Homo sapiens: one gene and its partner. The protein of the gene in region 1 interacts with the protein of each later gene in a biochemical or structural test. Each region holds a gene or a part of one and is shown in the gene's direction. Other genes may lie near its edges.

The links.
Region 2: the proteins of ABL1 (region 1) and PRKN form a complex in vitro, tested with the Homo sapiens proteins (2 studies listed by BioGRID, with this or other methods).

The regions. Positions count from the first base shown.
Region 1 is NC_000009.12:130,874,897-130,880,253, forward strand, and holds part of ABL1 (tyrosine-protein kinase ABL1), read left to right. Parts: coding exon 1-156; intron 157-3,518; coding exon 3,519-3,671; intron 3,672-5,171; coding exon 5,172-5,261; intron 5,262-5,357. UniProt on the Homo sapiens protein: Non-receptor tyrosine-protein kinase that plays a role in many key processes linked to cell growth and survival such as cytoskeleton remodeling in response to extracellular stimuli, cell motility and adhesion, receptor endocytosis, autophagy, DNA damage response and apoptosis.
Region 2 is NC_000006.12:162,721,267-162,724,766, reverse strand, and holds part of PRKN (E3 ubiquitin-protein ligase parkin), read left to right. Parts: intron 1-3,500. UniProt on the Homo sapiens protein: Functions within a multiprotein E3 ubiquitin ligase complex, catalyzing the covalent attachment of ubiquitin moieties onto substrate proteins. Substrates include SYT11 and VDAC1.

The DNA.
Region 1 (5,357 bases):
GGGAGAACCACTTGGTGAAGGTAGCTGATTTTGGCCTGAGCAGGTTGATGACAGGGGACACCTACACAGCCCATGCTGGAGCCAAGTTCCCCATCAAATGGACTGCACCCGAGAGCCTGGCCTACAACAAGTTCTCCATCAAGTCCGACGTCTGGGGTAAGGGCTGCTGCTGCACTGAAGTGGTCCTTCCTGACTACAGGAGGGTTTTTTTCTGCCTCTTTCTTGCTCTTCCCTTTCTTTTCTTCCTTTCTTTTTGTTTTTTTGAGACGGAGTCTCACTCTGTCACCCAGGCTGGAGTGCAGTGGTGCAATCTTGGCTCATTGCAGCCTCTCCCTCCCGGGTTCAAGCGATTCTCCTGTCTCAGCATCTTGAGTAGCTGGGATTATAGGCACCCGCCACCACACCCAGCTAATTTTTGGTATTTTTAGTAGAGATGGGGTTTCACCATGTTGGCCAGGCTGGTCTAGAACTCCTGACCTCAGGTGATCTGCCTGCCTTGGCCTCCCAAAGTGCTGGGATTACAGGTGTGAGCCACTGTGCACAGCCACCCTTTTTTTTTTTTTTTTAACTGTGTATTTGGCCTGAGGTCCAAATATGGTGCACAGTGTATCTGCTGATCTGTTAAGTCTCCTCTATAAGCCCCCTCTCCATGTCTTTATTTCCCTTGCTGTTTATTGAAGAAACCATCCTTAGAGTTTCGTACGTTCTGGGTTTTGCTCATTGTCTCCCATGGTGTGATTTAATATGTTCCTCTGACTTCAGTATTCCTAGTAATGGGTGGCTGGATCTGGAACGGCCTCATCACATTCAGGTTTGACTGTTTCTCTTTTAGTAAGAGTGGATCAGGGGAGATGGTGTGCCCTTCCATCAGTAGATACAAAATGCTTCATTTATTTCCTTCCTTCCTTTCCTCCCCTCTCCCTCCCCTCCTCTCTTCTCCTTCTCCTTCCGACGGAGTTTCGCTCTTGTTGCCCAGGCTGGAGTGCAGTGGCACGATCTTGGCTCACTGCAACCTCTGCCTTCTGGTTTCAAGCGATTCTCCTGCCTCAGCCTCCTGAGTAGCTGGGATTATAGGCGCATGCCACCACCCCCGGCTAATTTTTGTATTTTTAGTAGAGACGGGGTTTTACCATGTTGGCCAGGATGGTCTCCAACTCCTGACTTCGTGATCCACCCACCTCGGCCTCCCAAAGTGCTGGGATTACAGGCGTGAGCCACCACGCCTGGCCCCAAAATGCTTGATTTGCTATCGTTTTTTTGTGGGGGTTTTTTTTTGAGTAATTTTTGGCAGTTACTGATATACAGTGCCTAGATCCAATAGTTTGCTAGGTATTGCCAGGTAGGAATTCTCTAATTCTGTCATTCCTGTTAAGTTACTAGTGGAAACTTGTATGAGGAGAAACAGTTCCTCATCTGTGTGGTTACTCAGTGGTACAGTTCATGTAGGAAGAGCAGGGTCAATTCTTGCTTCTTTGTTTTTATTTACCAGTTTTTAAAATAACAAATTACTTTTTCTTTTTTTTTTTTGGAGCCAGAGTCTTGCTTTTTCTGGGGTACAAAGTACAGGCTGGAGTTCAGTAGCATGATCTCGGCTCACTGCAACCTCCGCCTACCAGATTCAAGCAATTCTTCTGCCTCAGCCTCCCAAGTAGCTGGGATTACAGGTGCCTGCCACCACGCCTGGCTAAATTTTTTTGTATTTTTAGTAAAGATGGGGTTTCACCATGTTGCCCAGGCTGGCCTTGAACTTCTGAGCTCAGGCAGTCCACCTGCCTTGGCCTCCCAAAGTGCTGGGATTACAGGCGTGAGCCACCATGCCCTGCCACAAGTTGGTTTCTTTTTTTTTTTTTTTTTTTTTTTGAGACAGTCTCACTCTGTCGCCCAGGCTGGAGTGCAGTGGCATGATCTCAGCTCACTGCAAGCTCCGCCTTCCGGGTTCACGTCATTCTCCTGCCTCAGCCTCCCGAGTAGCTGAGACTATAGGCGCCCGCCGCCACACTCGGCCAATTTTTTTTCTATTTTTGTAGAGACGGGGTTTCACTGCGTTAGCCAGGATGGTCTCGATCTCCGGACTTCGTGATCCGCCCACCTTGGCCTCCCAAAGTGCACAAGTTAGTTTCTTAATACCCTTCAGTGGTGGCCAATTAGGTTTTTGCTGTCATTGGTGGTATTATGAACTCTCAGATTTATATATATCTGATGTGTTTCAGTCCACTGCGGTTATTTTCCCTGTTGATATTCAGATTGTCTCGTCTTTGGCCAGTGGGAACTTCACATTAGCTCCTAGTCATTTTGACATTAACTTTGTAGTTTTCCATGACGTCCGCGCCCTCAAATGACAAGCTATTGCAGGTTCATTCTGTGCCCCAGGCCTGAATCACCCATTTCTCTAAGGAATCTTATCCTTTAATGGGAAATGGAATTTTAAGGCAATAATCTCAGATTTCAAAACTTTCAAAGATTTCATAAGATTTTTATGAAATGTTTAGAGTTAGAAGGGGCTTTGGAGATAGTCTTGTGCACCCAGAAAGCAGTGGTGGCCGGTTAGGCACAGAGCTGGTTGGTCACAGAGCTAAGAGTTAACATGGCCAGCTGACTTCCGGCGCCAGGTTCCTTCTACCACATATCCCAGCAAGATGGTCACATTACCTAAAAGACCCCACAGGGTCTGAAACTCATCATCTGCCCTCCTCTAGCATGTTTGTGGGGTAAGTTTACTGAGTCTTGTTCTGTCCTGGTCTCCTTTTTTTTTTTTTATTTTTGAGACGGGGTCTTGCTCTGTCGCCCAGGCTGGCGTGCAGTGGAGCAATATCAGCTCACTACAACCTCCGTCTCCTGGGTTCAAGCAATTCTCCTGCCTCAGCCTCCAAAGTAGCCAGGACTACTGGCGTACACCACCACACCTGGCTAAATTTTTTTTTTTTTTTTGAGATGGAGTCTCGCTCTGTCACCCAGCCTGGAGTGCAGTGGCGCGATCTTGATCTTGGCTCACTGCAAGCTCCACCTCCTGGGTTCACACCATTCTCCTGCCTCAGCCTCCCGAGTAGCTGGGACTATAGGCATCTACCACCACGCCCGGCTAATTTTTTTGTATTTTTAGTAGAGACAGGGTTTCACCATGTTAGCCAGGATGGTCTCAATCTCCTGACCTCGTGATCCGCCCGCCTCGGCCTCCCAAAGTGCTGGGATTACAGGTGTGAGCCACCGTGCCCGGCCCCTAATTTTTGTATTTTTAGTAGAGATGGGGTTTCGCCATGTTGGCCAGGGTGGTCTTGAATTCCTGACCTCAAATAATCCTCCCACTTCAGCCTCCCAAAGTGCTGGGATTACAGGCGTGAGCCACCGCACCCAGCCTTGTCCTGGTCTTCTGATGATAAAGAGCCTGGTAAAATGTCAGAGCCTGGGCTGCTGCTGGGGCCATCCCTTCTGAGGTCTGCTGCAAAGGTAACTGATTTTAAATGTAGTGTAGTGAAATGCTACACATCTTGAACAGCCTTTCTCTTTCGGTTTTCTTTCAGCATTTGGAGTATTGCTTTGGGAAATTGCTACCTATGGCATGTCCCCTTACCCGGGAATTGACCTGTCCCAGGTGTATGAGCTGCTAGAGAAGGACTACCGCATGGAGCGCCCAGAAGGCTGCCCAGAGAAGGTCTATGAACTCATGCGAGCATGTAAGCCTTCCTCAGCCTGTTCTCACGAGTATATGTGGGCATTCCAGGAAATTCAACTGTGCAGGAGTGTGTACACAAAGTTGAAAGTTTTTCCATGAGCTCTCTCCATTCCAGTTCTTCAGATGCAGCTAATGTAGCCATTTGCTACCTATTGACCTTTATTTACAGATAAATAGTATGTGCGTGACTTGTCTTTTAAAGCAAAAATGGTATTGATAGATACCAAACCTGGGTGTATTCCTAAATACAGATTCCTGGGCCCTGCTTTCACAGACATTCTGCTATAGTAGCTAAGCTCATGAGGTGATTTTTTTTTTTTTTTTTTTTGAGACGGAGTTTCGCTCTTGTCGCCCAGGCTGGAGTACAATGGCGCAATGTTGGCTCACTTCAACCTCCACCTCCCTGGTTCAAGCGATTCTCCTGCCTCAGCCTCCCAAGTAGCTGGGATTACAGGCATGCACCACCACGCCCGGCTAATTTTGTATTTTTAGTAGAGATGGGGTTTCTCCATGTTAGTCAGGCTGGTCTCCAACTCCCAACCTCAGGTGATCTGCCTGCCTCGGCCTCCCAAAGTGCTGCGATTACAGGCGTGAGCCACCACGCCCAGCTGCGAGGTGATTTTTATCTGGTCGTTTTATACTGATTACATATGTGTTATCTGTACTATGCACACACAGGATGTTTTCATATATCTTATAAGGTATTTATATGGCCATTTCTTACACTGTTTTCCCACACATGTCTTTCCACGTCCATATATTCAGATCTCTCCCTCTCCCTACCTCTTATTTATGTATAGCTGCCCAGTACTCCATTTCACTCATTCATCCGGTCCTCTTTTGATGTGCATTTGGTTGTTTTACACATTTGTTTGGTTTTTGCCCTTATAAACAAAGCAGAAACAAATATTCATGTACACGAATCTCTGGGCACTTTGGCTGGTATTTCTAAAAGTTGAACTGTTGGTTCCAAGAACTGTGTGGGTTTTAAATTTTGATACATTTTACCAAACTGTTAAAAAAGGTTGTGCCATTGTATGCTCCAGTCAGACGCATATGGGAGTGACTGTTCCTGGTCCCCAGTACTAGGCTTTGTCAGTCTGTTTAGTCCTCATGTTAGTCTCATTTTCATGAGAATTTCTTTACTTCAGACTTTGATAACCGTGAAGAAAGAACAAGATAGAAGGTGAGCTGTTTGGCTTAGTAATTTTCTACACCTACTAGAGCGGGACTGGGAAAAATATATTTGTAAATGCAGTTCTTGCTGTCACTGTCTCTCTGGGGTTTTACAATCCATATTCCTGCCAGCATCTAACGTCTTTTCAAATTCTTAATGTCTATAACAGGACATGATGACATTCATCGTTTTGACTTGTTGCAGCAAAAGATGGTTAGCAGGATTGGAATGTTGCTTTCATTCTAGACTTTTCCTTGAGAACTGCTAGCCCCGTATTGCTAGCCAGATCTCATGGATGATCTGACTTGGGTTTCATCTGTCCAGGTTGGCAGTGGAATCCCTCTGACCGGCCCTCCTTTGCTGAAATCCACCAAGCCTTTGAAACAATGTTCCAGGAATCCAGTATCTCAGACGGTAAAGTACCCATCCCGGGGTACCTGCAGTGGGGTGAAAGGGCAGCCATGTGGGACTGCAGCCTGGGTCATTCGGTTCACTTCCTGGTGAAAGTTC
Region 2 (3,500 bases), on another chromosome or scaffold:
AAAACAAAGGAAAATTTGTTTTTCTTCTCCCTGTGTTGAGGGAGTGCTGAGAGAGTCTCCAGAGCATATTAGATAATATTATCAAGACTTTTCCTGGGTCTAGGCTGTGCCTGTTGCTGCTTCTGGAACAAGTTAGCCTAAAACAGGAAAACTTATTTCTCTTTCTTTTTAATTTTATTGTTCTTTAATTTCCCGCCTCAACCTTACTGCGAATAATATTCTGCCACTTTATTTAAATCCTGGCTTAGTTTAAGGAGAAACGTAAAGATGGGTTTCCTGGTAGAATAGGAGTAAACAGGACTGACTGTGACCTCACTGCTAATGACATGTACCTTCCTTTTACTTTCTCAAAACCGAAGATTCCCTTATTGGCATGAGGACTGTTTCAAAAGTACTTACATTTCCCACCTGCATTGTGATTGATGTGTTGAATGCCCTGACCCAGGCAGCTACAGAAACATAATTTAATTGAAGTCGGTTAAAAATTGTGCCTTTGTGGAAAGTGTGGAGAAGGACTTCAAGATGATATAAAGCAGAATAGAAAAGCTTAAAAGAATTCAATTTAGAAAAATGTAATTTTTGGTACCTCTATTAAAAATATATTTTGACTTTTTTAAAAATGAGCAATTCTTTGTGTTTAAAATGGAATGTTAGTGGGGATATTTGTGGTATGTTCTAAATGTTCTGTAGAACTGGATTTAGGTATTTGAGTAACAGCAGATATTAGAGTGCATGGTTATATATACAACAATGTTGTCAGTATTGAAATACACATTCAGTGTCTTAGACTTTTAAGAAGATTTTTGATTGACAAAAACCATTCATTGGAACATAGTCTCTTCTATACCTTGTTTCACTTAGCATCTCTTTGAGAATTTACATATCTGCATGTCCAGATCCACTCCACAGCGATTCCTGCCTAGTCTTTTATAGGATACACTAATTATGAAAATATTTACCAATAAATAAGCACTCATTAGGTTTACAGACAACTGTTGTCAGAAGTGTTTGTGGCCATATCTTTTTACTTGCACATGTAAGCATAGATGTAAAATAAAAATCGTATGACAATTTGAGTTAAAGAGTTTGTAGATTTTACATTTTCCTAGGTATTTCAAAATTTTTCCAAAATAAGTTGCCCAATTTTACAAGCCTATCTAAAGCCTCCACTAATACAACATGGTAGTAAAGAGCTGCCCTGCCCCTCTGGGCTGAAAATTGCCAAAAGACGTCCTTCCTGAGACTGACTCAGCTTTCACTAGCAGAACGCCTCCTGGATCTCCGGTCCCCCACCTCTCTCTCACCCTAGGGGTAGTGCCTTTCAGTGTACAAGCTGCACAACTGTCCTTGGTGGCCCTGCCCTCCCTTTCAGTGTGTATAAGAGTGCCCATTTCCTCCCATGTGCCATCGAAGATTTTTTATTTTTGCCGTCTTGACAGATGAAAAACAGTATCTTTTAACTTTTCAAATTAATTTAGAAGAAAACTTCTCATTCTCATCTTATAGTGCGTTAGTTTTGCAAAAGCAGATCCAGTGATTCCAGCACCTGCTATGTACCCTTAACTGCTCTAGGTGCCAGGGAAACGAGGGAACACAACAGAAAAAGTCCCTTGCCATCAGGAATGTATATTCCGACTTCACCATTTGGCTACACATCTGCATATTTGTTTTCAAGCTTGTGTGCAGTGAATTTTAAAGTCTCAATTTATATTTCTAGTTGAATATACTGTGTACTGCTCTTTGCCCTGCCATTTTGATAAGTTGATGAAAACCAGCTCTATGCCTAAGTACCCCAAAGCTTCTGTTTATAATGAGGTAAAATTGTGTCAAAAATAGGCTCTACTAAAGTTTTGCATAGAAGATTTTATGTAATTATATAATAGTTCTTCCTTGGGTCCAAAGGCTCTAAAATGACCCTTTGCCCTTTACAATTTTGGCCCTATTTCTGAGGATGTTTTTGAAGTCTGCATTTTTTGAAACCTCATAGTTTCATTGCCTGAAAATGATACAATGAAAGTACTTTGTATTAAGATATGTAAATCCATTCCTACCTCCAAAGTTTCTTTGAAAAATGCAAAAAAAAGAGTTCTTACTTCGAAATGCTTCATATTCATGAAAGCAGTTTTAATGCAAAATACTTTATTCTGTTAGCTATTAGTTCTTTGATCAATGAAAATTGTTTCTTACCTGCTGTTTCTGCAGCCTTTAATTGTAGCCCAGTGCTTATTCAATGTTTCTGTTTTAATTTGCATTTAATGAGCTCATTTTAAATGTTTCTTCGTAGTAATCTGAATGGTTTCTCTCCCTCAATTTTGTAATATTAAAGAGACTCATGTGACAGTCGGCTGATTTATGTTGCAGCTCACCTCCCTGGCTTATTTACTTCATCCTGTAGCATAGAATCTTGGTTAAAAGGAATTACAGTAATAGGATTCTTTTCCCCCAGTAATTTCCTAATTACCTAGGACTCTTAACAGATTAACTCAAATGTCTGTTTTTCACCAAATAGAAACCTTTTTTCCTTGAATGAATAGGTATTTATGATTATTATTTCAGTGTCATTTCTTTATACCATATGTATTAGATGGTGCTGGGTAGGGATGGGTACACATAGGTTGTATTTGTCTATATATTGCCTGTGGGGAAGGTACATAGAAATGACCATTTCTTCCCAATAAGTTTGTGGCCTAGTTGGGCTGATTAGGCTTATATTGGTGGTATAGATTGCACCTTCACCACCACAGAAGAAGAGTAATTAGAAAGATGTATGTACATATCAGCACACACATACATGCCTGCAACACGTGATTTTTCATGTTTCTTTTGTTCATTTGATTCTCGTTGATCTGAATGCCCTTTCTTTCTGTTGAACATCTCAAAACTACTGTTCATCACTCAAGATCCAGTTCCAATGGCACCAACTTTATGTGAAATTTTCCATGTCACCTCTTACCCTCTTTTTAGTGTGAGGCAATTAGCACCTCCTTTAGAGTCAGCCAACATTTTAGTAACTACCCTTCATCAGGTCCTTGTTCATAGTCTAGAAGGGGTACAGAAAAGTAAAGATTTACAAACCTGAAAGGTGGGTATCATAATATAGGTTTATACAAGGAAGTACTGGAAAACTCAGCCTATAGAGCTTGGAAGATCCAGCTGTTTCCCAGTGGAGCCATTCCAGTTTTCCTGCAGGACAAGTAGGAGTTAACTAGGTGAAGGCGGCCTTCTAGACAGGCATGGAGGGGAGAGAAGAGAATAGAATGAAAGGTATCTGGTGAGGCTGCAGGCACACCAGATAAGCTTTGTCAAGGAGGTAGGTTTAAAGTTGGCGATAGGGAGGAGTCACTGAACCATTATCTACAAAAGAGCATTATGAACAGGTTGTATTTTAGAAAGATGTCTGTGGCAGTACTAGAAAGTTATGAAATAGAACGTTGTAGAAAATAGTTACACTAGTGCCAGCAAGTCCAGATAAAGTGTTAATAGAGGACTTCTCATGACCT